3 separate regions of the Homo sapiens genome follow, and all the other regions are linked to region 1. The links come from fine-mapping of genetic effects on gene expression. A gene starts in region 1. Each other region holds a variant in brackets. All regions are shown on one strand. Distances are from middle to middle. Region 1 holds the start of ZNF639 (zinc finger protein 639). Region 2 overlaps MFN1 (mitofusin 1). Region 3 overlaps GNB4 (G protein subunit beta 4).

The links.
Region 2: its variant is fine-mapped to the expression of ZNF639 in whole blood (INTERVAL, PIP above 0.99).
Region 3: its variant is fine-mapped to the expression of ZNF639 in whole blood (TOPMed, PIP above 0.99).

What each region holds. Positions count from the first base shown.
Region 1 is chr3:179,318,919-179,327,104 of GRCh38, forward strand. ZNF639 (zinc finger protein 639) reads left to right here and starts at 4,113. Exons shown (of 6, transcript NM_001303426.2): 1 at 4,113-4,373. RefSeq lists silencers at 3,843-4,282, 4,313-4,452 and enhancers at 5,023-5,072, 6,114-6,213.
Region 2 is chr3:179,377,297-179,385,482 of GRCh38, forward strand. It overlaps MFN1 (mitofusin 1), which reads left to right. Exons shown (of 18, transcript NM_033540.3): 12 at 48-152; 13 at 1,045-1,147; 14 at 1,289-1,518. Among named protein-coding and RNA genes, the nearest start is that of MFN1, 34 kb to the left of the region's middle. The variant A/AT (reference allele first, on the strand shown) is at 4,778.
Region 3 is chr3:179,416,320-179,424,505 of GRCh38, forward strand. GNB4 (G protein subunit beta 4) reads right to left here. Exons shown (of 10, transcript NM_021629.4): 3 at 4,570-4,608; 4 at 3,080-3,186; 5 at 174-237. Among named protein-coding and RNA genes, the nearest start is that of GNB4, 31 kb to the right of the region's middle. The variant A/G (reference allele first, on the strand shown) is at 3,166.

The DNA of each region.
Region 1 (8,186 bases):
AGAAATGTATAAATTTAGTCCTTGTACCTGTGTAAGGGTGGCTTGGAATTTTGGAGCTCAGATGGCTCTGTTGAGTATGTGAGATGACTAACTTGAGACTTTTGCATGCAGCCACCTCATGCCTGAGTCAGAAGCGTGTCCCTTAGGTGTGCACTAGTGTTAGCTGACTAGGTAACCATGACAGAGTTTATCAATTCATTCGACAAACAGAATACCAAGCTAGGCCATGTGTCATGTGTTCCCATACCTGCACTATGTAAGTTTACTAATTACATTCCAGTGTTGTATAATTGCCCATATTCCCTACTCAACTGTAAGGACCAGGAGACCAATGACCATGTCTATCTTGCTCACACTGTATTGCCAGTATCTAGTACAGTGCTGAACACAAGGTAGATATGCAATGAATATTCTACTGAAAGAAATGAATGAGGCTGTATGCAAGATACTGTGCTAAGCAGGGAAATGGAGCAGATTGGAAGATAATAAAACTGGAACTTAGGGTCCGTGGAGAGACAACATGATGAACAGATGGAGCCAAATTTTGCAAGGGCAGACGCTTATGCAAACTGGGAAGATCAATTTGAGAAAAATAATATAAAATTTTAATACAGGCTGGGTGTGGTGGCTCATGCCTGTAATCCCAGCACTTTGCTGAGGCCGAAGTGGGTGGATCACTTGAGGTCAGGAGTTTGAGACCAGACTGGCCAACATGGTGAAATCTCGTCTCTACTAAAAATACAAAAATTAGCCAGGCATCGTGGTGCGCACCTGTAGTCCCAGCTACTTGGGAAGCTGAGTCACGAGAATCGCTTGAACCCAGAAGGAGGAGGTTGCAGAGAGCCGAGATCATACCACTGCACTTCAGCCTGGGCGATAGAGTGAGATTCTGTCTCAAAATAAATAATACAAAATTAAGCACGTGGTCCTGGAAGAGGTTCATGCAATTGAAGGGACTTGAAATTTAAGCTTCAGTAACTTCACAGTAACTCCATCTCTGGGGAGAAGTGGACAAATGTACTAACTACTGTGGAATCTCTAAAGATTGGTCAGAGATTTCGGCAAGGGAAAATCAAGGTTTCATAGAAGAGATCAACTGTGAGCTTCATCTTACAGAAACAAAGGAAACAAATTGCAGGTGGAAGAAACGTGCTAGATCACACAAGTGAGAAAAAGGCAGAGCGTATCTGTGGAATAGTGAGAAATACTATATGGTTAGTGTGGGGTTGGGTGAGGAAAGACTTAGGATAGTGGTTCTCCAGACGTGATCACAGGCCAGCAGCATGGACTTCGAAAGGAAATTTGTTAGAACTGCAGCTACTCAGGCCCTAGTCCAGATTTACCCAGTTCTCTTCATCCCATATCCCAAAATAAATTGTAGACAAACGAAAAAGTTAAAGCAAAAAATGCAACCAGATCCTGCATAGAAGAAAAGATTATCTCAGCAAAAGGCCAAAAATAGAACTTGCAAAGGAAAAGATTAATAGACTTGCTTTCACTACAATTTAAAATGTTTGCACCACTAACAAAATTAAAAAACAACAAACTGCAATTACGCCTGTAATCCCAGTACTTTCGGAGGCCGAGGTGGGCGGATCACCTGAGGTCAGGAGTTTGAGACCAGCCTGGCCAACATGGTGAAACCCGTCTCTACTAAAAATACAAAAATTAGCCCCGTGTGGTGCCACGCGCCTGTAATCCCAGCTACTCGGAGGATGAGGCAGGAGAATCGCTTGAATCTGGGAGGCGGAGGTTGCAGTGAGCCAAGATCACGTCATTGCACTCCAGCCTGGGCGAAAGAGCAAGACTCTGTCTCAAAAACACACAAACAAACAAACAAAAAACATAAAGAATGCTCGTGCTATACTAATTGGAAAAAAGAACCTGTTAGAAAAAAACACAGCCAATATTCTAATTTTGAAAACAAATTTTTATGTCAGTATAGGTATAAAAATAACGGAAAGATAGAAAGCAAAATGTTACCATTGATGAGCTCAGGGTTGTGAGATTATGGTAAATTTACTTTTGCTCTTTGTACTTTTCTGTTGTCTCCATTCTGTACTAAAAACGTAACTATTTTCTAATCAGGAAGAAATTAAGTGGCCGGGCGCGGTGACTCGCGCCTGTAATCCCAGCACTTTAGGAGGCCAAGGCGGGCGGATCACTTGATGCCAGAAGCTCAAGACCAGCCTGGCCAATATGGTGAAATCTCAGCACCACTAAATATACAAAAATTAGCCAGGTGTGGCAGCTCGCGCCTGTAATCTCAGCTAATCTGAAGGGTGGGGCACGAGAATTGCTTGAATTTAGGAGGTGGAGATTGCAGTGAGCCGATATCCCATCTCTGTACTGGAGCCTGGGCGACAGAGTGAGACCGTGAGAAAGAAAAAAGAAAAAAAAGAAAAGGAAGGAAGGAAAGGAAGGAGAAATTAAGCTATTCTACAAGTGTGTGAAAAAGTTGGAAGAACGATGTTTTAATAGCCCTGAATCAAATTTATAATAGTATTTAACAAACTCTACAATTTAGCACTCTTGAGATTTTAGGGTTTTATCCCAGCTATCACCCTCCCTTGGAGCGGGAGATGAGGAAAAGAGGGACCCAAAAATGAAACTGAAAAACACTCCAGCTAATCAAGAACTTGAAATTGCTTGCAATTTGTGACTATGTTAAACAACATCTAAACAAAGTCAAGCTCCTCTAAGTGCAAACAATACGTGGGATGCTGGGGAGAGTGTGCGTTTACTTTCACTACAAAATGTTTTGGAGTAAAACTTCATTTTGAAATATAAAGATTTTGTTGGACACAAGGCTATGTGGTAAGGCAAAATGGTAAGATGGTGGCATGACACCCCCTTGTGGTTTCCACCGATTCCCGGTTCTGTGCTAGATACTAACTATTCTAGGATTTAAAAATGTCTCTACATTTCTTCGAACTTTAATTCGGGCCATACTAGCATTCGTGAGCATTTATTTGAGCTGAGTACGCACATAAAACTTAGGAGGTCATAAAAACTGAGCCTCACAAACAAGTAGTGTCTCTTTCAAATATAGCTTTATCTCCTGGGGGATGGTGAAGGGATCAGAGTAAAGTCTGTGATTATTACTTTCCAGCGATTGATTGGTTGATTGGCATGTGGTTGTCAGAAAAAGCAGTGGACGTGAACAAAGAGACATCATTGCAGCCCTAACTATCCGAGTGACCTTGGGTACCTGATAATCCACATGGCTCTCAGTCATCCTCTTAACCGTTTGAACCTCAGGGGTTTAGGCTACCAAAATGAATTAAGACCCAGTCTTTAGCTTCTCACACATTTACTTTTCCATTTTGTAAAATGTGACTAAAAACCTCAACTCATTGTCAAAAGGACTGAATTAAACATATCACCACACTTGCACAGAGATCATTTATGGAACCATGTTCACAAATTTATTTATGCTCGTGTAATTTAATCATTTCTACAGCTGCTCAAAGAAAGTCAAAGTCGAGAAAGGACTTAAATCGTCGAGTCCAGTCCCCCTTAACTCCTCATTCATTCCACTATTTCTCGAGCCAAGGAATCGGGTGAAACTCAACAACGACTCGCAGTCTTCAGGTTTCACCCTCTTGCCCTGAGGGCAGCATCCTAGCCCTAGGTGGTTCTCTGGTGTGGCCTCAGTAAAACCGTGACGAGGTCCTCGGCCTCTCTGTCCCCAACAGGCGGCTGGCACACTTCGGGGTCTGAGATGCCATCTGCCTTGCCTAACCTGGGCAAGACCACTCGCGTCCTTTCCCTTGAGGAGCAGCGTGGGAAAGGTGCCGCTGCGCGCCACGTTTCTCCCAGTTCCCCAGGGCTTGAAGGGGCGGTGGAGGCGGGCGGGATAAATTCGCTGGCCGCCTGGCGTGGAGTAATCCTAGAGGGTGGGATCGCCCTCGGGGCTCGGGAGGGGCTCTTCCCCGCCCAGAAGGAGACTGCGGCGGCGCAAGGCCTCCGGCAGGGGGCGCGGGCCGCTGGGCCTCCCCCGGGGCTGCGGGCCGGTGGTCCCTCCCAGGCCGCGTGTGCGGTGCGTTCGCGCAGCCCGCTCCCTGCCCCCACCTCACCTCGTCACCTCCCCGCCCTCTCGGCGGGCCCCTGAGGTGCGCGGCGCAGGCGCGGAGCGTGGCGGCCAGGGCAGTGCGGCCGCGGAGCCTAGGCCAGGGGCCTGGCGCTCAGGGCGTGGGGCGCGCGGGGAGGGAGAGGGGTCGGCCCAGCACAGCGTCCGGGAGCGCTAGGGCCGGAGCAGCGCTGCCCGCCGCCGTGCGTCCGCGGGAAGGACCGCGCGGCCCCTCCGCCTGCGCTCTCGGCCGCCGCCGCCTCTGCGTGGGCCGGCCGGGAGGGCCTCGGGGGACTGACTGGTGAGTGTGAGGGAGGAGCGGGTGGGTCGGGCGCTGGACTGCTCCAGGGGACGCGGGCGTGCGGGCGCATCTTCTAACGGGAGAGGGCGGGAGAGACCGGAGCTCCCTTTATACGGAAACTCTGCCTTCGTTATATGGCGGGATGGCGTTCCCCTCCCCCATCCCGAAGGCAGTTCCACCCCCTGCGCAGGACGCCTTGGCCGGGCTCCCCTCGGCCCCCTGCTGCCGTTGTCTTTACGGAACCTTTGGTGTCGGGGCTTGGAAGTCTCCTTGGCGCCGGCTTCTGGGCCCGGGCGAAGCTGGTGCGTGGCGCCGGGGTGGAGGCGGCTAAGTCCCAGGGACTTCTGCCCTGCGCCTCCGACGGGCATTTGTCTGGCTGCGTCCGGGCTCGGGACGATCCTGGGTCCTCGCTGGCGCTGCGGCCCTGCCCGGCGGCTTCGTGACCTCCGGCGGCGAATCCCCGGGCTCGCGCAACGAGTTGTAGCCGCGGAGAGCAGGCGTCGATGCTGGCGCCCAAAGCCTCCAGCCTGAGAGTCGCCTCACTCGTGTGACGGTGCTTAGAAACCCCCTTTTTTGGTTTTGTCTTTAAGTACTGTCTAGGGAAACGAATCATTTGAAGCAGTTTATGCCTTTTTTGTTTTTTTCGAAGAGAAAGATTTATGCCGGACTGAAAAATAGCGAATCAAGTATTTAGTGACCGTGTGATATTGCAGTAAAGACTGCCTCCACGTTGGACATGTAGTGGATTCTAGTTCAGGCTCTCCTGCAACATGTTTTTGTTTCAATTCTTTTACAATTTAAAGCATATGCTTATTTTAATGAGAACGAAAAAGAAAGCTTAACTCTTTTTAAACTCGTTAAAAATGGAGTTATTTACTGTAAAGACGTCTTACAGCAATTAGGAAGAATATACATTGCATGAAAGGCCTTTTGAAACGTTTATCTATTTGATGATTGCTGACTGCCTGTTGTATGTATTCTATTTTGTGCATAGACTTTCTTGTTGGTTGAAAAAAATGACAGGTGGAAAGATGTTGGTTTCTAGGTGATATAAAAAATTTTTAAACATTTTTCTGATTTTTCTGCAGTGACACGTGTTACATATGTCGTTTGTATTTCAGAGGGAGGGGGGACTGTGATAGGTTGCTTGTGATTCAGAATCTTCCTGCTAAGAAGACTAGTGAGCAAATGTTTATGACATCCTTGAGTAGAAAGCTAAGTTTTTTCAAGGCTGTTATGCACACAAAAGGCACATAAAAATGATTGCTAAAATGAAGGATGGTTAGCATTTTTGGTCTTGAGTAGGCATCACCATTGTGCTGAAAGGAAGTCCGATAGACATTTGGTTATCGTTCGGCCCTAAGTAGGAGTCAGACCCTTCCTGATCCGTGTGCCTCCTCCTCTCACCTAACAGCCTGAATCCAGGCCAGCTTGCAACGTTGATTTTAATACCACGCTTGGTTTCCTTTTCTTACTTTTATTCTTCAAGTTGCAAAGAACTTGAGATGCATTCTGAAATAACAAGAGACTACTTAACATGTTCGGCTGAGTGTTTTCAGTGTTCTCCCTGATACTTTTAGAGTATTTAGAACATGAAGTGTGAAGCTTTGGGCTATATGAATCGTAATAGCTCTTCTCTTTTTGATTTTTGAATGCAGTGAATTGAGATGGTTACTCAAGGAATGATTGTTTACATTGTTAGGTGAGGCGTTTGATTTTATTCTTTTTTCTTTCTTTCTTTCTTTTTTAGACAGAGTTTCACTCCTGTTACCCAGGCTGGAGGACAATGATGTGATCTCGGGTCACCACAACCTCCGCCTCCCGGATTCAAGCGATTCTCATGCCTCAGCCTCCCGAGTAGCTCAGATTACAGGCATGTGCCACCACGCCCGGCTAATTTTGTATTTTCAGTCGAGACGGGGTTTCCCCATGTTGGTCAGGCTAGTCTTGAATTCCCGACCTCAGGTGATCTGTTCGCCTCGGCCTCCCAAAGTGCTGGGATTACAGGCGTGAACCACTGCACCCGGCGAGGTGAGGTATTTTATATATTGGTATCATTTCTGTACATTTCATGGTTGTCTGTTTCTTTAGGCTATTCTGTTCCCCTTCTCCCAACTGGTAGCTAAGAACTGGAAGCAAGATGTGCATGCATTTTCATCTCTGGTTCTCCCACTTATTAGTTGACTTAACTTTCACTAAGGCTGTTTCCACATCAGTAAAAATGTAAATGGGTTTGATAGTAACTCCTCCATGTACCGCACAGGACCATTTTGAAGATGAAATAGAATAAGGGTTAGGAAAATGCTTAATAAACTGAAAAGGCCGGGCGCGGTGGCTCACGCCTGTAATCCCAGCACCTTGGGAGGCCGAGGCGGGCAGATCACGAGGTCAGGAGATCGAGAACATCCTGGCTAACACGGTGAAACCCCGTCTGTACTAAAAATACAAAAAATTAGCCGGGCGCCTGTTGTCCCAGCTACTTGGGAGGCTGAGGCAGGAGAATGGCATGAACCCGGGAGGCGGAGCTTGCAGTGAGCCAAGATAGCGCCACTGCACTCCAGCCTGGGCGAAAGAGCGAGACTCTGTCCGAAAAAAAAGTAAAAATAAAATAAACTGAAAAAGCACTATCTCATTCCCTGCTGTATTATATCACTTCAGTGCTGATATACCCAGAACTTAGTGAAGCAGCAAAAATAGTATGTGCACCTCAGCTAGAACACCTGTCATGTGTATCACCTTGGTGTTAAGAGCATTATAGGCCGGGCGCGGTGCCTCGTGCCTGTAATCCCAGCACTTTGGGAGGCTGAGGTGGGCGGATCACTTGAGGTCAGGAGTTCAAGACCAGCCTGGCTAACATAGTAAACCCCCGTCTCTACTAAAAATACAAAAATTAGCTGGGTGTGCTGGCGGGTACCTGTAATCCCAGCCTCCTGCTGGCGGGCGCCCGTAATCCCGGCCACTCAGGAGGCTGAAGCAGGAGAATCGCTTGAGCTGGGGAGGCAGAGGTTGCAATGAGCCAAGATCGTGCCACTGCACTCCAGCCTGGGTGACAGAGCAAGACTCCGTTTCAAATAAATAAATAGATTAATAAATAAAGTTGGGTAAACCTTTATTCAAATCCCAACCCCAGCATTTACTGAGTATCTAGCTTTGACTTTACTGTGCCTCAGTTTCCTCAATAACAGGAACTATAATTTTGAGAGGGTGATGTGAATTTTGCATCTCATACGATTACATAGGATTAAATGAGATAAAGTATGTTCACAGCCTGGTACATAATTGGTGGTCAGTAAATTATTATTATCACTTTTACTTTTTTCTTTTTTTGTTTTGTTTTGATTTTTTGTTTTTGAGAGAGAGTCTTGCTCTGTTGCCCAGGCTGGAGTGCAGTGGCACGATGTCAGCTCACTGTAGCCCTCCGCCTCCCAGGTTCAAGCCATTCTCCTGCCTCAGCCTCTTGAGTAACTGGGATTGCAGGTGCGCACCATCACACCCGGCTGATTTTTGTATTTTTAGCAGAGACGGGATTTCACCATATTGGCCAGGCTGGTCTCGATCTTTTATTTCTTAAATAAATAATCTATAAGGGCTGTAACAGTTTAAAGTTTATAATTTGGGCCAGGCAAGGTGACTCACGCCTGTAATCCCAGCACTTTGGGAGGCCCAGGTGGGTGGATCACCTGAGGTCAGGAGTTTGAGACCAGCCTGGCCAACATGGTGAAACCCCGTCTCTGCTAAAAATAGAAAAATTAGCCCGGTGTGGTGCCACATGCCTGTAATCCCAGCTACTTGGGAGGCTGAGGCAGGAGAATC
Region 2 (8,186 bases), 58 kb after region 1:
GATAATCTTGTTTAATTATTTTAACTCCAAAATTTTCATATTTTCAGGTTTCATGTGCAATGACAGATGAAATTTGTCGACTGTCTGTTTTGGTTGATGAATTTTGTTCAGAGTTTCATCCTAATCCAGATGTATTAAAAATATATAAAAGTGTAAGTTAAAGTATAGATAAAATTATTCAGAGACAGTTTCTTATTATTCTATACCCTCATTTATTTCATGGTTTGGCATTTCAGTGTATCAGTACAAAATGAAACTGTTAGATCTCTTGTGCCCTCTTGTAATAAATGTAAACTGTCTTGTATAAAAAGTAAATAGAAAATTTATACTTAGAATGAGATAAAGATCATTTTAGGACGAGGCACAGTGGCTCATGCCTGTAATCTCAACACTTTGGGAGGCCGAGGTGGGAGGATCAGTTGGGCCCCAGAGTTCGAGACCAGCCTGGGCAACACAGTGAGAACTCTAATCTACAAAAAACAGTTAGGCTGGTTGCGGTGGCTCCCGCCTTTAATCCCAGCACTTTGGGAGGCTGAGGCGGACGGATCACGAGGTCAGGAGTTCGAGACCAGCCTGACCAACATGGTGAAACCCTGTCTACTAAAAATACAAAAAAAAAATTAGCCGGTGGCAGGCGCCTGTAATACCAGCTACTCTGGAGGCTGAGGCGGGAGAATCGCTTGAAACCGGAAGGCAGAAGTGGCAGTGAGCCAAGATCACACCACTGCACTCCAACCTGGGCAACAAGAGCAAAACTCTATCTCAAAAAAAATAAAAAATAGCCAAGCATGGCGACACGCTTCTATAGTCCCAGTTACTCAGGAGTCTGAGGCAGGAGGATCGCGTGAGCCTAGGAGGTCAAGGCTACAGTGAGTCAAGATCAAAGCACTCCAGCCTAGGCAACAAAGCAAGACCCTGTCTCAAAAAAAAAAAAAAAGTCAAATTAAAAAGACCATTTTGGCATTTACTGAATATTTTATGTCTTTATAAAAACTACATACTTTCTGGAGAAAAAATAATATGGATATTTACCATTGTTAACAGGAATTAAATAAGCACATAGAGGATGGTATGGGAAGAAATTTGGCTGATCGATGCACCGATGAAGTAAACGCCTTAGTGCTTCAGACCCAGCAAGAAATTATTGGTAATATTTATGTCTACAAGGTCATGTCTGGTTTGTTTTTTCATTCATGACTGGTGAAGAGCTTATTTTCCTTTAGGCATTCCATTGAAGGTAAAACATTTACCATTCTTATCTTAAGTGTTGTAATTTTGTTCTTTCTAGAAAATTTGAAGCCATTACTTCCAGCTGGTATACAGGATAAACTACATACACTGATCCCTTGCAAGAAATTTGATCTCAGTTATAATCTAAATTACCACAAGTTATGTTCAGATTTTCAAGAGGATATTGTATTTCGTTTTTCCCTGGGCTGGTCTTCCCTTGTACATCGATTTTTGGGCCCTAGAAATGCTCAAAGGGTGCTCCTAGGATTATCAGAGCCTATCTTTCAGGTATGTATCTTTGAATCTACCAATTAAGACTCTCCTTTATTATTTTGTTTATGTGGTTTTTCTATAATAAAACTAGCTTTACAAAATCTGCACATTTAAAAGCTAGTATCTATCTCTTAGAGCCATTTCTGAGGTAGATATTTAGTTTGAGCATCTCCAATCTGAAAATCCTTAAAGGTCCAAAATGAAAAACTTTTTGAGTACGGTGACACCACAGGTGGAAAATTCCACACCAGACCTCAATGAGGTCATAGTAAAAACGCAGGCACACAACACACAGTTTATTCAGTGTCCTCAAGGGAAAAAAGACTCAGCCTCTTCTAGCTGCAATATATCTTTTCCACGTATGCCCAAATTCCCCCACACAAGCACACCTATGAAGGGTACTAAAATGGCACATGTGCAGGTCCAGTGCACCAACAGCATTTTCCCCATGATGCCCCACAAGGGGCCAAGACCTTTGTGCATTACCCAGTATGGGCTTCTTTACTTCCTGTCTTTTCTCTGGTGTAAAGATACTGTTTAAAAAAAATTTTTTTTTGAGTGGGGATGCGTTTGAGACAGAGACCTGCGCTGTGGCTCAGGCTGGAGTGCAGTGGTGCAATCTTGGCTCACTGCAACCTCCACCTCCCGGGTTCATGCGATTCTCCTGCCTCAGCCTCCTGAGCAGCTGGGATTATACGCACCCACCACCACACCCAGCTAATTTTTGTATTTTTAGTAGACATGGGGTTTCACCGTGTTGGCCAGACTGGTCTCGAACTCCTGACCTCAAGTGATCCACCTGCCTCAGCCTCCCAAAGTGTTGGGATTACAGGCGTGAGCCACAGCACCCAGGCTGTTTAAAATGTTTAAAAGGCCTACAGATACCCTTGTGGGTGACATTGATAAGAAAAAGAAGAGGCATTTATTTTTATTTATAACACATAAATTTAAGCTGTTGGAAAAACTGGACAATAATGTAAGTGAGAAACTTCTTACAGAAGAATGATGTTGGAATGAACACCATATATGACCTAAAAGAAAGAACAACTTTCCTAAAGTTGTTCTTTAGGACTAAACTGTTGAAGTTCCATGCTAAAAATGATGACAGAAGTTAATGAAAAAAACAAAAACACTGCAGAAAGTTAAAAACGAAGATCTTGATCATGCATTGAAAGAGTGGATCCATCAGCATTGCAGTGAACACGTGCCACTTAAGGACATGCTGATCATGAAATAAACATCTATTAAAATGAACTGAAAATCGAAGGGAACTGTGAGTATTCAATAGGCTGGTTAGAGAAATTTAAGGTAAGATAGCATTAACTTTTCTAAAGGTTTGTGGTGTTAAAGCATCTTGATCACAAAACAGCAGAGAAATTCATTGATGAATTTGCCAAGATTGTCTCTGATGAAAATCTGACTCCAGAACAAGTCTATAATGCTGATGAAACATCACTGTTTTGCCATTATTGACCCAGAAAGACACTGACTACAGCTGAGGAGACAGCCCCTACAAGAATAAAGGATGCAAAGAACAGAATAACTGTGCTGGGATGTGCTAATGCAGCAGGCATAAATGTGAACTTACTGTGATAGGCAAAAGCTTGCATCCTCACTGTTTTCAAGGAATGCATTTTTTTTACTAGTCCATTATTGTACTAACAAAAAGGCATGGATCCCTAGGGACATCTTTTCTGATTGGTTTCACAAACATTTTATACCAGCTTGTGTGCACTTGCAGGGAAGCTAGGCCGGATGATGACTGCAAGATTTTGTTATTCCTTGACAACTATTCTGCTCATCGTCTAGCTGAAATTCTTATTAAAAAAAGTGTTTCATTATTTCAACCTTGTGACCAGGGTATTCTACGATCAATGAAGAGTAAATACAAAAACCTTTTTTGGGCAGCATGCTAGCAGCAGTGAACTGAGGCCTGGGTGTGGAAGGTTTTCAGAAGGAGTTTAGAATGAAAGATGCCATAGATGCTTTTGCCAGCACAAGGAGTTTAGGATGAAGGATGCCATATATGCCAGCACTTGGAAGACAGTGACTCAGTTGTGTATGCCTGCAGCCTCTGCCTGTCACTACATTTATTGATGATGAGGAGCAAATTGGTGACTTTGAAGTATGTCAAGTGAGCTCCTTATGCAAAAAATAATATCTTCAGAGTCCATCCGTAAGCTGGAAGAAGGATATATCAAAGAAGTGTTTGACATTGATAATGAGGTTTCAGTTGTTCATTCATTAACTGATGGCAAAATAGCTAAAATGCTTCTAAATCAAGGTGATTATGATAATGGTGATAATGAAGATGATTTCATTGACCTCGCAGAACAACTGCCTATAGGCAGCATGGTGATGGGCTTATTGAAGCACTAGAGCAGCATGTATTCATAACAGAACAAGAAATAGGTTTATAAAATCAAGGAGAGACTTCAACAAAAACCATTGTTAAAGAGGCAAGTAGGTGGTACTGCAGGAAACATTTTAAAAGGCCATTCAGCACAATGTCTTATTATGCCGAGAGGACCCACTTCTTGGTCCCTCAACTGCTTCTGATGTTTCTTCTCACCTAACAAAGTACTGTGTACCGGAACTTTTTAATCAAAACATAACATTGTAGGTAGAGACTGAAAGCCTGCCATTGTTGCTGTTTAACAGCTGATACAGGTGTTCTGGTGATGCCACTGTGCTGCTTAGTTTGAATACGTTATTTTTCACTGTTATTAATGGTGTGTCTTATATTTTTACTATTAAGTTCCTTTGTGTGAATCCGTGTAAGAAAATGATTGCTTGTCAGTAGTATGTAAATTCAATCAAGAATGATGGTGATGCCAAACAACCATAGAGTGTTCACATGGGTGGCTGACATAGCAACACCTGTGTTTTCTGATAAGTCAGTGTACACAACCTTTGTTTCATGCACAAAATTATTTAAATATTGGATAAAATTACCTTCAGGCTATGCATATAAGGTATATGAAGCATAAATGAATTTTGTGTTTGGACTTGGGTCCCATCCTCAAGATAGCTCATTATATCTATGAAATATTCAAAAATCCTAAAAAATCTGAAATCTGAAACACTTCTGGTCCCAAGCATTTTGGATAAGGGACACTCAACCTGTAGTATGCTTAAGGGAAAGCTTATCCTAAAGCTTTCGTCCAATACTGTTGCAGGTGGTGCTACATTCATTTTTGAAACATTTCTGTTTTCTTAAAAGATTTGGTTTTCACATTTCAAATAAACTAGCATAAATACAAGCATTTTTTTA[A/AT]TTTTTTTTTATTATACTTTTAAGTTCTAGGGTACATGTACACAACGTGCAGGTTTGTTACATATGTATACATGTGCCATGTTAGTGTGCTGCACCCATTAACTCATCATTTACATTAGGTATATCTCCTAATGCTATCCCTCCTCCTTCCTCCCATCCCACAACAGGCCCCGGGGTGTGATGTTCCCCTTCCTGTGTCCAAGTGTTCTCATTGTTCAATTCCCACCTATGAGTGAGAACATGCAGTGTTTGGTTTTTTGTCCTTGCAATAGTTTGCTGAGAATGATGGTTTCCAGCTTCATCGATGTCCCTACAAAGGACATGAACTCATCATTTTTTATGGCTGCATAGTATTCCATGGTGTATATGTGCCACATTTTCTTAATCCAGTCTATCATTGTTGGACATTTGGGTTGGTTCCAAGTCTTTGCTATTATGAGTAGTGCTGCAGTAAACATATGTGTGCATGTGTCTTTATAGCACCATGATTTATATTCCTTTGGGTATATACCCAGTAATGGGATGGCTGGGTCAGATAGTATTTCTAGTTCTAGATCCCTGAGGAATCACCACACTGTCTTCCACAATGGTTGAACTAGTTTACAGTCCCACCAACAGTGTAAAAGTGTTCCTATTTCTCCACATCCTCTCCAGCACCTGTTGTTTCCTGACTTTGTAATGATTGCCATTCTAACTGGTGTGAGATGATATCTCATTGTGGTTTTGATTTGCATTTCTCTGATGGCCAGTGATGATGAACATTTTTTCACGTGTCTATTGGCTGCATAAATGTCTTCTTTTGAGAAGTGTCTGTTCATATCCTTCGCCCACTTTTTGATGGGGTTGTTTTTTTCTTGTAAATTTGTTTGAGTTCTCTGTAGATTCTCGATATTACCCCTTTGTCAGATGAGTAGATTGCAAAAATTTTCTCCCATTCTGTAGGTTGCCTGTTCACTCTGATGGTAGTTTCTTTTGCTGTGCAGAAGCTCTTTAGTTTAATGAGATCCCATTTGTCAATTTTGGCTTTTGTTGCCATTGCCTTTGGTGTTTTAGACATGAAGTCCTTGCCCATGCCTGTGTCCTGAATGATATTGCCTAGGTTTTCTTCTAGGGTTTTTATGGTTTTAGGTCTAACATTTAAGTCTTTAATGCATCTTGAATTAATTTTTGTATAAGGTGTAAGGAAGGGATCCAGTTTCAGCTTTGTACATATAGCTAGCCAGTTTTCCCAGCACCATTTGTTAAATAGGGAATCCTTTCCCCATTTCTTGTTTTTGTCAGGTTTGTCAAAGATCAGATAGTTGTAGATGTGTGGTATTATTTCTGAGGGCTCTGTTCTGTTCCATTGGTCTATATCTCTGTTTTGGTACCAGTACCATGCTGTTTTGGTTAGTGTTTGGTAGTGTAGTATAGTTTGAAGTCAGGTAGCGTGATGCCTCCAGCTTTGTTCTTTTGGCTTAGGATTGACTTGGCAATGCGGGCTCTTTTTTGGTTCCATATGAACTTTAAAGTAGTTTTTTTCCAATTCTGTGAAGAAAGTCATTGGTAGCTTGATGGGGATGGCATTGAATCTATAAATTACCTTGGGCAGTATGGCCATTTTCATGATATTGATTCCTCCTATCCATGAGCATGGAATGTTCTTCCATTTCACCCATTCACAATTGCTTCGAAGAGAGTAAAATACCTAGGAATCCAACTTACAAAGGATGTGAAGGACCTCTTCAAGGAGAACTACAAACCACTGCTCATCGAAATAAAAGAGAATACAAGCATTTTAAAAGAAAAACTTTAAAAAATTTATCAATTCAGTAATTTTTTAGGAAATTTGTGAAATTGTAAAACCATCACCACAATTTAGTTTTAGTTTTTGTCACCTCAAAGCTGTTTTACTCATTTGTAGTCAATTATGATTTCCACCTCCAGCCTCACCACTAATCTGCCTTCTGTTTATGGATTTGCCCTTTCTGGAGGTTTCCTATAAATGCAATCATATAGAATGTGGCCTTATATGACTGGTTTCTTTCACTTAGTATAATGTTTTCAAGGTTTATCATCATGGTATCAGTGTTGTAGGATGTATCAGTACTTCATTTCTTATTACGGCTGAGGAATATTCCATTATAGATACAACACTATCCATTCACCAGTTGATGGACATTAGGGTAGTTTGTAGTTTTTGGCCATTATGAATACTGCTATAAATATTCATGTACATGTTTTTTATGTGGACGTGCGTTTTCATTTCTCTTGAGTATATACGTAGGTTCTAATGGGTATAGAGTAGTATTCGTTGTAGGTTTGATTTGCATTTCCCTAATGACCAATGATTTTAAACATCTTTTTTGTGTGCTCACTAGCCATTTGTGTATCTTCTTTTGTGAAATGTCTATTCAAAGCTTTTACCTATTTTTAAATTATTTGGGTCCTATAGAGTTGCAGGATTTCTTTGCATATTCTGGATCAAATCCTTTCTCACATATATGATTTCCAAATATGTTTCTTTATTTTTTGAGACAAGGACTTGCTATGCCCAAGCTGGAGTATGGTGGTGTGATCACAGTTCACTGCCACCTCTGCTTCCAAGGAGCTGGGACCACAGGCATGTGCCACCACACCTAGCTAATTTAAAAGAAATTTTTGTAGACACAAGGTCTCACTGTGCTGTGCTGGCTGGTTTCAAACTCCTGGTCTCAAGCTATCCTCCTGCCATGGCCTCCCAGAGTGCTGGGACTACAGGCATAAGTCACTGCACCCAGCCCCAAATATATTTCTCTTGCCTGTGGCTGTGTGTTTTGAAGTTTAAGAGGTTTTTATTTTGAAGTCCTTTTTTTTTTTTTTTTTTTTTTTGAGACTGAGTTTCACTCTGTTGTCCAGACTGGAGTGCAGTGGTGCAATCTCGGCTCACTGCAAGCTCTGCCTCCTGGGTTCACGCCATTCTCCTGCCTCAGCCTCCCAAGTAGTTGGGACTACAGGCATCCACCACCTCGCTGGGCTAATTTTTTTTTTTTATGTATTTTTATTAGAGACAGGGTTTCACTGTGTTAGCCAGGATGGTCTCGATCTCCTGACCTCGAGATCCATCCACCTCGGCCTCCCAAAGTGCTGGGATTACAGGCGTGAGCCACCGCGCCCGGCCGAAGTCCTTTTTTTTTTTTTTAGTTTATCATTTTTTGTTGTTGTTTGTTTCAAGGATTGTGCTTTTGTTGTTAGTTTTTTTAAAAACACACTTTGTTCCTCTTGAGAGTTGAGGGCCTACTGTTACATTTAGACCCCATTGTATATTATGAAAATTTATTGTTCATGATATCATTGGTCCATATTGTAGATAAGAATTTCCAAATTATTTTTATTTTCTACATATATTTGTGGTGTACTCATCATTTAGGGTAATTTTTCCCTCATAGAT
Region 3 (8,186 bases), 97 kb after region 1:
AAGGGTTAAACATTAAAAGTAAACACTAAGACAAAAGAGAAGAACTAGATTAAAATAAACAATAAATTTATCTCAGAAAGCAATTTAAGTTTGAGGTAAAAGAATAAAGGAAAGAACTGGTGAACAGCCAAACAAATATAAGGTTATTTAAAAGAATTATGAAGAAATTCTACCTTATTTGTTGTATAGCTATCCCAAATAATTAATTTTCCATCTTGAGAAGCACTGACTAGCAGCCTAGAGGAACAAACACAAAAATAATTTGACACTTAGAGGGAAAAAATAGCTTAAATTGGTTATGCATTGCATTAATGTAGAATAATTCAGAAAAATACAATTTTTCCAACTAAAAACTTGATACCAAAAAATGTTCTTCCAACTTTTAAAAAATTTATGCTGCATGCCAAAAATCTTGAACATATTTCATAAAATAAAATTTAGCAACTGACTAAAAATGTCTGGCTATGATTAAACATTTTTGTGGTAACAACATCTTAGTTATACAAGATTTGGGTGGATATTAGCTGACTGGTTTAGTACTTACTGACTTACTTAAATTTCATGACAAGAATGTACATAGAAGCCTAACAACCATATTTCATCCAATCTAAAAACACCAATTGAGAGCCTGAGAATATGACAATACTAGAGGTACAACGCAGGATACATCGCCTGCTCTTGAGGCCTCTACCATCTGGTGAAGATAAGACATTTACTCATATTTATATTAAATCAAGTAAGTAAAAACTGTCAGAAGAGGGGTATAAAATAAATGCCACAGGAGAGTAAAGGAGGAACAATGGCTAGATGAGTTAATCACAAGAGAATGAGTCTTGAAAGAAAATGTTGAGAGCTAAAGATACAGAAAAGGCTGTATTTTAGGAGAAAGCTATGTAAGATCAATGACAGGTAGAAAAATACACTGAGTGTTGTTTCAGGAATTGTGGGTCTTCCAGTAGTACAGTTTGTGAGAAAATGGAAAAATAAGTTGAGAAAAGCAGACTGGGCTTAAACTGCAGAAAGCTTTGTTAAACTAAAGAGTATGAACTCCTAAGTAATTTTAGCCACTAAATTTTTTGTTTTGTTTGGATTTTTTTTTTTTTTTTGAGACAGACACTCACTGTGACACCCAGGTTAGAGTGCAATGGCACGATCTCAGCCCACTGCAACCTCCGCCTCTCAGGTTCAAGTGATTCTCCTGCCTCAGCCTCCCGAATAGCTGGCATAACAGGTGTGCACCACCACGACTGGTAAGATGGGATCTCAACATGTTGGTCAGGCTGGTCTTGAACTCTTGACCTCAAGTGATCCACTCGCTTGGCCTCCCAAAGTTCTGGGATTACAGGCATGAGCCACCATGCCCAGCCTTGTTTGGAATTTTTACTTTTCACCATGGTGTAAAATTCAAAAAATAAAAAAGGATATACAGAAGAAAATTTAAAAAGCACCTTCCTGGGCCTATCATCAGCCACCCAGTTCCTTTCCCTAGAGGTAAATAACATTATCAGATTCTTGGGTAGCAATCACTACAAGGTTTTACAAAAGGGAAGATCTATCTGATAGTGGGGTATAGGATGGCATCTAAAGAAAATTCTTTAGAAATCAATTGGCATCATCAGCATAAGAGTTGAGGAGAACATTAAGTAATGGATTGATAACACGGATGGGTGGGAAGACTATGTGAGATAGGTTCCTGGATGATGGTTTCATTTTTCTATGAAGATTAACAGTCTTCAGAAAACGTTTAAGGAAAGCAAGAACCATAAACATTGTTTCAAGTTACTATATTTTAAGTTAAAATTTTGCTTTATCAACAGGTAAATTATTTTTATCTTCAACTCCTTTAAGAAAAAGAATAAGACATTCGGCCAGGCGCGGTGGCTCACACCTGATTAATCCCAGCACTTTGGGAGGCTGAGGCGGTTGGATCACCTGAGGTCAGGAGTTCAAGACCAGGCTGGCTAACATGGTGAAACCCCCTCTCTACTAAAAATACAAAAATTAGTCAGGCGTGGTTGTGGATGTCTGTAATCCCAGCTACTTGGGAGGCTGAAGCAGGAAAATCCCTTGAACCTGGGAGGCAGAGGTTGCAGTGAGCCGATACCACACCATTGTACTCCAGCCTGGGCAACAAGAGTGAAACTCTGTCTCAAAAAAAAAAAAAAAAAAGAAAAAAGAAAAGAAAAAGAAAAAGATTAAGACATTATGTCAGTTGCCAATTATATAATTTTATGTATCCCTTCGTAAGAGGCACATGTTCTATATTATTGTGGTCAAGTATCCCAATTAGAGCAACAATTGAGGCTTCTTCTACTTTATAATTTTAGTGTCTCCTGGGAGAAGAGAATAAATGTGCAACTTCTATTAAAACATAGAAGTTTCTTGGTTTAGGCATTTCCCATTAAGATTAACCAAATCAAAGGAACAAGTAAACCACTGTGATAGCAGACACATCTGCTATTGCCAGACAATGGAAAAACATAGGCTGTGCTGTAGCCTTATACACATAGTGAATGACAGTGATGAGCAATCTATCTAACTGTAGGCCACGTAGCAGCTGTGCGTGTGCCTGTGCACCTGCAGATGGTCAGCTTGCACATTCAAGCACACACCTTTCTGTGATGCAGTCGAGGGAGTAAAAGATGTATTCAGTACAAACACCTTTGTTTCATGTAATTTCCATTATTTGCGAATTTATGTAATAACAAACTATAGCAATATCCAAAAACTTGCACATAGGTGTTCAATACGTATTTGCTTATGAACTGAAATTTCAAGCTTCATATACAGTAAAAACGCTTTGTGCCTATTTAAAAAACAAAGAATGTCTGCAATGTTCCACTGCAAAGAAAAGGAATCCTCTTCTGAACAGTTGTCCTGGATTCCATATTAAAAATGTTTATACTTTTAAAGAGTCAATTAATATTCTTATTGAAAGCAGCATGTTCATCTGAGATGCATTTTCTGCAAACGCTTCATGAATATATTCTGTTTTTAAACAAAGAAAATGCAAATGATGGTTCTTAATGAAAATAATTCTGCAACAGTTTAAAAATGACAGGTAATGACAGGTACAAACCTGGAATCGTATCCCCAATGCATAGCATAGATTTTAGCTAGGTGGCCCCTCAGTGTACGTCTTGTTCGCATTTGTATTCGACCCAC[A/G]GAGTCCATATTTGATGTAATCTTTTGAAAGCAACAAAAATGTTATTCTTTACCTTAATCATAGTTCATGAGATAACTTGAACTAGAAACAGTGAGGAGTTAAAAAAGCAAACATAAAGTACATTTATAGTAACTGAAGGTAATTTAATGTATATAATTCCACAGAGCCGTTATGGGATCAATATGTTCCTGAAAATTATGATTAGTTTAAAATAATCCTATGTGCTGTTATAAATAATATACATAAATGTATAATAAGAATGCCTTCTGCAGACTATTAACTAAAAAGAATAGATATACCTCTATGCTTTAGTAAAAAACCAGCCACAAATAAAAATCTAGAGGCAAATGATCACAGTAAACATTTACAATTTTAACTGTAAGAAAGCCAATTTTATATTTGTAGAGCACATAAAATACTTCCTTAATAATAATGATCAATATTAATTAAACATGAAGCCTTCCCAAGATTTTTTAAAAATATTAGTCTTCTTGACCCCTCTTACTATCTCATTCCCAACCTAAGAGTTTTCATAAGGAAAAAAACACTTAATCAGGGTATACCAAAAAGAATCAGAAACTATTTAAAAAGAAGCATAAACTATATGAATCTATACATACATATATATATACATACATAAATATATATAATTTTTTTTTTTTCGAGACAGAGTCTCACTTTGTCTCCTGGGCTGGAATGCAGTAGGGATCTCGGCTCATTGCAATATCTGCCTCCCAGGTTCAAGCGATTATCCTGCCTCAGCCTACCAAGTAGCTGGGATTACAGGCAGGCACCACCATGACCAGCTAACTTTCATGTTTTTTTTTTTTTTCTAGTAGAGACAGGGTTTCACCATGTTGGCCAGGCTGGCCTCAAACTCTTGACCTCAAGTGATCCTCCCACCTCGGCCTCCCAAAGTACTGGGATTACAGACATGAGCCACCATGCTTGGCCTTGAAAATATATATACATATATATATATATATTTTTTTTTGAGACGGCGTCTCACTCTTCTCGCCCAGGCTGGAGTACAATGGTGCGATCTCAGCTCACTGCAACCTCTGCCTCCTGGGTTCAAGTAATTCTCCTGCCTCAACCTCCCGACTAGCTGGGATTATGCCCAGCTAATTTTTTTTATTTTTAGTAGAGATGAGGTTTTACCATGTTGGTATAGCTGGTATATTTTTATAGCATTTATTTTTCCATAGATGTCTATTTTAACAATATATTTTAAAAAGCACTCGCACTGTATAGCATTTGACAAATTACGAAGTGCTTTTACACAGAGATTTCATTTAACTTTTTTCAATTAAGCACTAATACAAGAATCTGAATGTCATTTGCCTCTATGTCAAATTATTTTATGAGTTACCAAAATGAAATAAAGAAAAACAAAACTTTACCTGAACAAGCGTTGCATCATTACATGCTTTCCGAGCATCCTGAAGTAAAAAAATATGATTATAATGCATTTAGCAACCTGTGGAATGACTAAAGTGATACTTTTATTGAAAACGTAGATTTGTGAATTTACTTCTCACTGTACCACATCTTTAAAAATTTTTTTAATTGATATAAAAATCACATAACCTAAATCAAACCATTTTAACCATTTTAAGGCATGTAATCCAGTAGTTTTTAGTATCACAATGTTGTGTGACCATCACCACTAATTACAGAACATTTACATCACCCCAAAAAAGAAACCCCATATCTCCTAATTCCTTTTTCTCTCACAGCCCTTAACAGTCACTAATTTACTTTCTTTCTCTATGGATTTGCCTCTTCTGAACAAAATTTGAGAGATGTCAATAAAAATTTGAGAGACCTCAAATTTTTATACAAACTGAAAAGGATTATCAAAAGGAAGACGGTGAAGCAGAAATTAACAAAAAATTAAAGACTGCAAAGAACATATTTAATAAAAAAAGTTTTACACCAAACATCAGTTTTTTTCAAATTTATCAGTTAACAAATTTAGAGGATTTATATACATAGAAAAATAAGAAATGAAATTAAATCCTTCCTGCTAGGCTTAAACTTTTTTCCACAAAGGTTATAGTAGTATCCTCTTCAATTTTGTTTTTTCTATACAGTGTTTAAGTACTTGCATAGTCCTGGGCAAGGAGAACGCACAAGATGTTTGCTGAATAAATGTCCCAAATGGACAACTTGTTCCAGTCAGCCGAGGGAAAAATGCCTGCTTCAGCTCCCAGCAAACACTGGATGGCAGACATGATCTTTCTGGCTGCCCTTTCAACCTATTTATAACCACTCAGAATATTTCTAAGTAAGGGTGTTCACAAGTAGTTGCACTAAACATGTGATTTGATTATTTCATTCTTAGCCAAATTGTGGGTTTAAAGACCTCATCTGGTAAGGAATAATGTAGCCCACTTTCCTATAATGAAGAGTTTCCAGAAATGACAGTGATGGGCCTGAACCATGTTCCAAAAATGGTAGAGTTAAAGACCAAATTCTTAAAAAAGGTTCTTTGACTTCAAGCTTTATGAAAATGAACCATCATTGTTTAGACTATCTTTTTTAATTTAGTTAGTTGTTAAAAAAACTGGGTTGAACACTATGTGTCAGGCACTATTCTAGGCACCAATAGGCGTCAAAAATCTCTGCCCTCATTGAGCTTACATTAATATTAGTAACACAATTTAAAAATTGCAAATGGAAATTATTGAACTACGCTGAAAATTGGTAACAAAAATTAAAATATTATGTTGGAATACAAGAATTCTACAAATATGTTAGCAGCAGTTATGTGCAAAATTACATTATGCAAAGATTCTATTTACACTGAGAACTCTCTCTTATGAACACTATTATCCATTATAAAACAGAATATAAGGCCAGGCGTGATGGCTCATGCCTATAATCCCAGCACTTTGGGAGGCCGAGGAGGAAGGATCGCTCGAGCCCAGGAGTTTTAGATAAGCCTGGGCAAAACAGTGAGACCCTGTCTCTGGAAAAAAAAAAAGCAAAACAAAACAAAAAAAAGAACAGAATATAAAAAATATTCCCAATTAAAGGCTGAATTCCATACTGTCCAGCACCACAAGAAATAAAAAATCTGGTAAGATATTTGTGCAAAAGAAAGATGATACATACTTTTTTGCAAATCAAAGACATAACAATTACACAAGAAAACAAAATCTATTTTCTCTATTTGCATTTTTTAAAATTTAAAACAAATCATCTATTATAATACATAGCATACATTTCTATTATATCATGTATTTACACTATAGTAAGGTAAAAATATAGTTAGATTATATTTCCAGATGGGAGGAGGAAGGAAGGAAAGATTTTTTTTGAGACAGAGTCTTGCTCTGTCGCCCAGGCTGGAGTGCACTGGCGCCATCTTGGCTCACTGCAAGCTCTGCCTCTCAGGTTCATGCCATTCTCCTGCCTCAGCCTCCCGAGTAGCTGGGACTATAGGTACCCACCACCACGCCCAGCTTTTTTTTGTATTTTTAGTAGAGATGGGGTTTCACCATGTTAGCCAGGATGGTTTCGATCTCCTGACCTCGTGATCCACCCGCCTCAGCCTCCCAAAGTGCTGGGATTACAGGTGTGAGCCACCGTGCCCAGCCAGAAAGATTTTTAAATATAGTGTGACAATTAAACTAAGAAAAGTACATAGTATTTTACATATATGTGGTTACTTCAAATCATGGGAGGAGATGATTTGGTGAGCACCTGCGCCCACGACATTGTGCTTGGGATGCTAGTGAGATACGGAGATGATTAAGACACAAAATTATCCATCTAGGTACAAACAGTAGGGGCAAATATGCACAAGAACTACAACACAAGGCAGACCGTGATCAGCTCTATAACAGAAGTCCAACATGCTGTACAAGTAAAAATCTGCCACTTGCTGGCAGCAGACTAAGTCCTCTATGTGTTATTTCACTTAATCCTCTGCAGAAACATATAAAGTGGGGTACTGGTACTCTTGCTTCACAGCAAAGATACTGATCATCAATGAAGTTAAGAAACTTGACTGGGCGTGGTGGCTTACGCCTGTAATCCCAGCACTTTGGGAGGCCGAGGCAGGTGGATCATGAGGTCAAGCGATCAAGACCACCCTGGCCAACATGGTGAAACCCCGTGTCTACTAAAAATACAAAATTAGCTGGGCGTGGTGGTGTGTGCCTATAGACCCAGCTTCTCAGGACGCTGAGGCAGGAGAATCACTTGAACCTGGGAGGCAGAGGTTGCAGTGAGAAGAGATCGCACCACTGCACTCCAGCCTGGGCGACTGAGACTCCGTCTCACTCTGATTTAAAAAAAAAAAAAAGATAAATCCAAGTGGAGGGCTCTTGGAGGATTAGGACTCAACAGATAGGATTTCCAAAGAGCAAAATTGGCTCAGAAGTCGTATAATTCCAGGCCAAGGGAACAATTTGATAAAAGGTAACAGATGAGAAAGAGTAATGCGTGTTCAGGGAACCAAACTAGTATGGCTACAGCACAAGTCGCAGGAAAGGAGATGAGAAAGAGTAATGCGTGTTCAGGGAACCAGACTAGTATGGCTACAGCACAAGTCGCAGGAAAGGACATTAGTAACTAAGGTTGGGAGAACCAACTTTAAGTTATAGCAGAACACACCTGGTCTGAATCCTGGATCTGTTACCTTGGCAACTTATTTAATCTCACTGAGCCTCAGCTTCCTCAACTATTAAATGAAGTAACACCATCGACTTCACAGAGTCGGTGTGAGGATTAAATGAGATAGGCATGTGGCCACATGGTTTAGCCAATCAGCTGCTCCTGCTCAGCATCTGGAGTAAGTGACACAAAGTAGAGAGGGCAGAAATTCCTTCTAGTGGGTGCAGTAACATCGAATTCAGAGATGAGTCTGCGAAGCCTTCTGTGATTATCCCAGGCAAAATACATCTCTCCTTTGTTCTGAAAGCTTTGTTGAGATACCTAAGATTTCAACTCATAATTCTTATTCACATCTAAATAGTTACCTTCCTTGAATTCCTGGCAATAAGTCTGT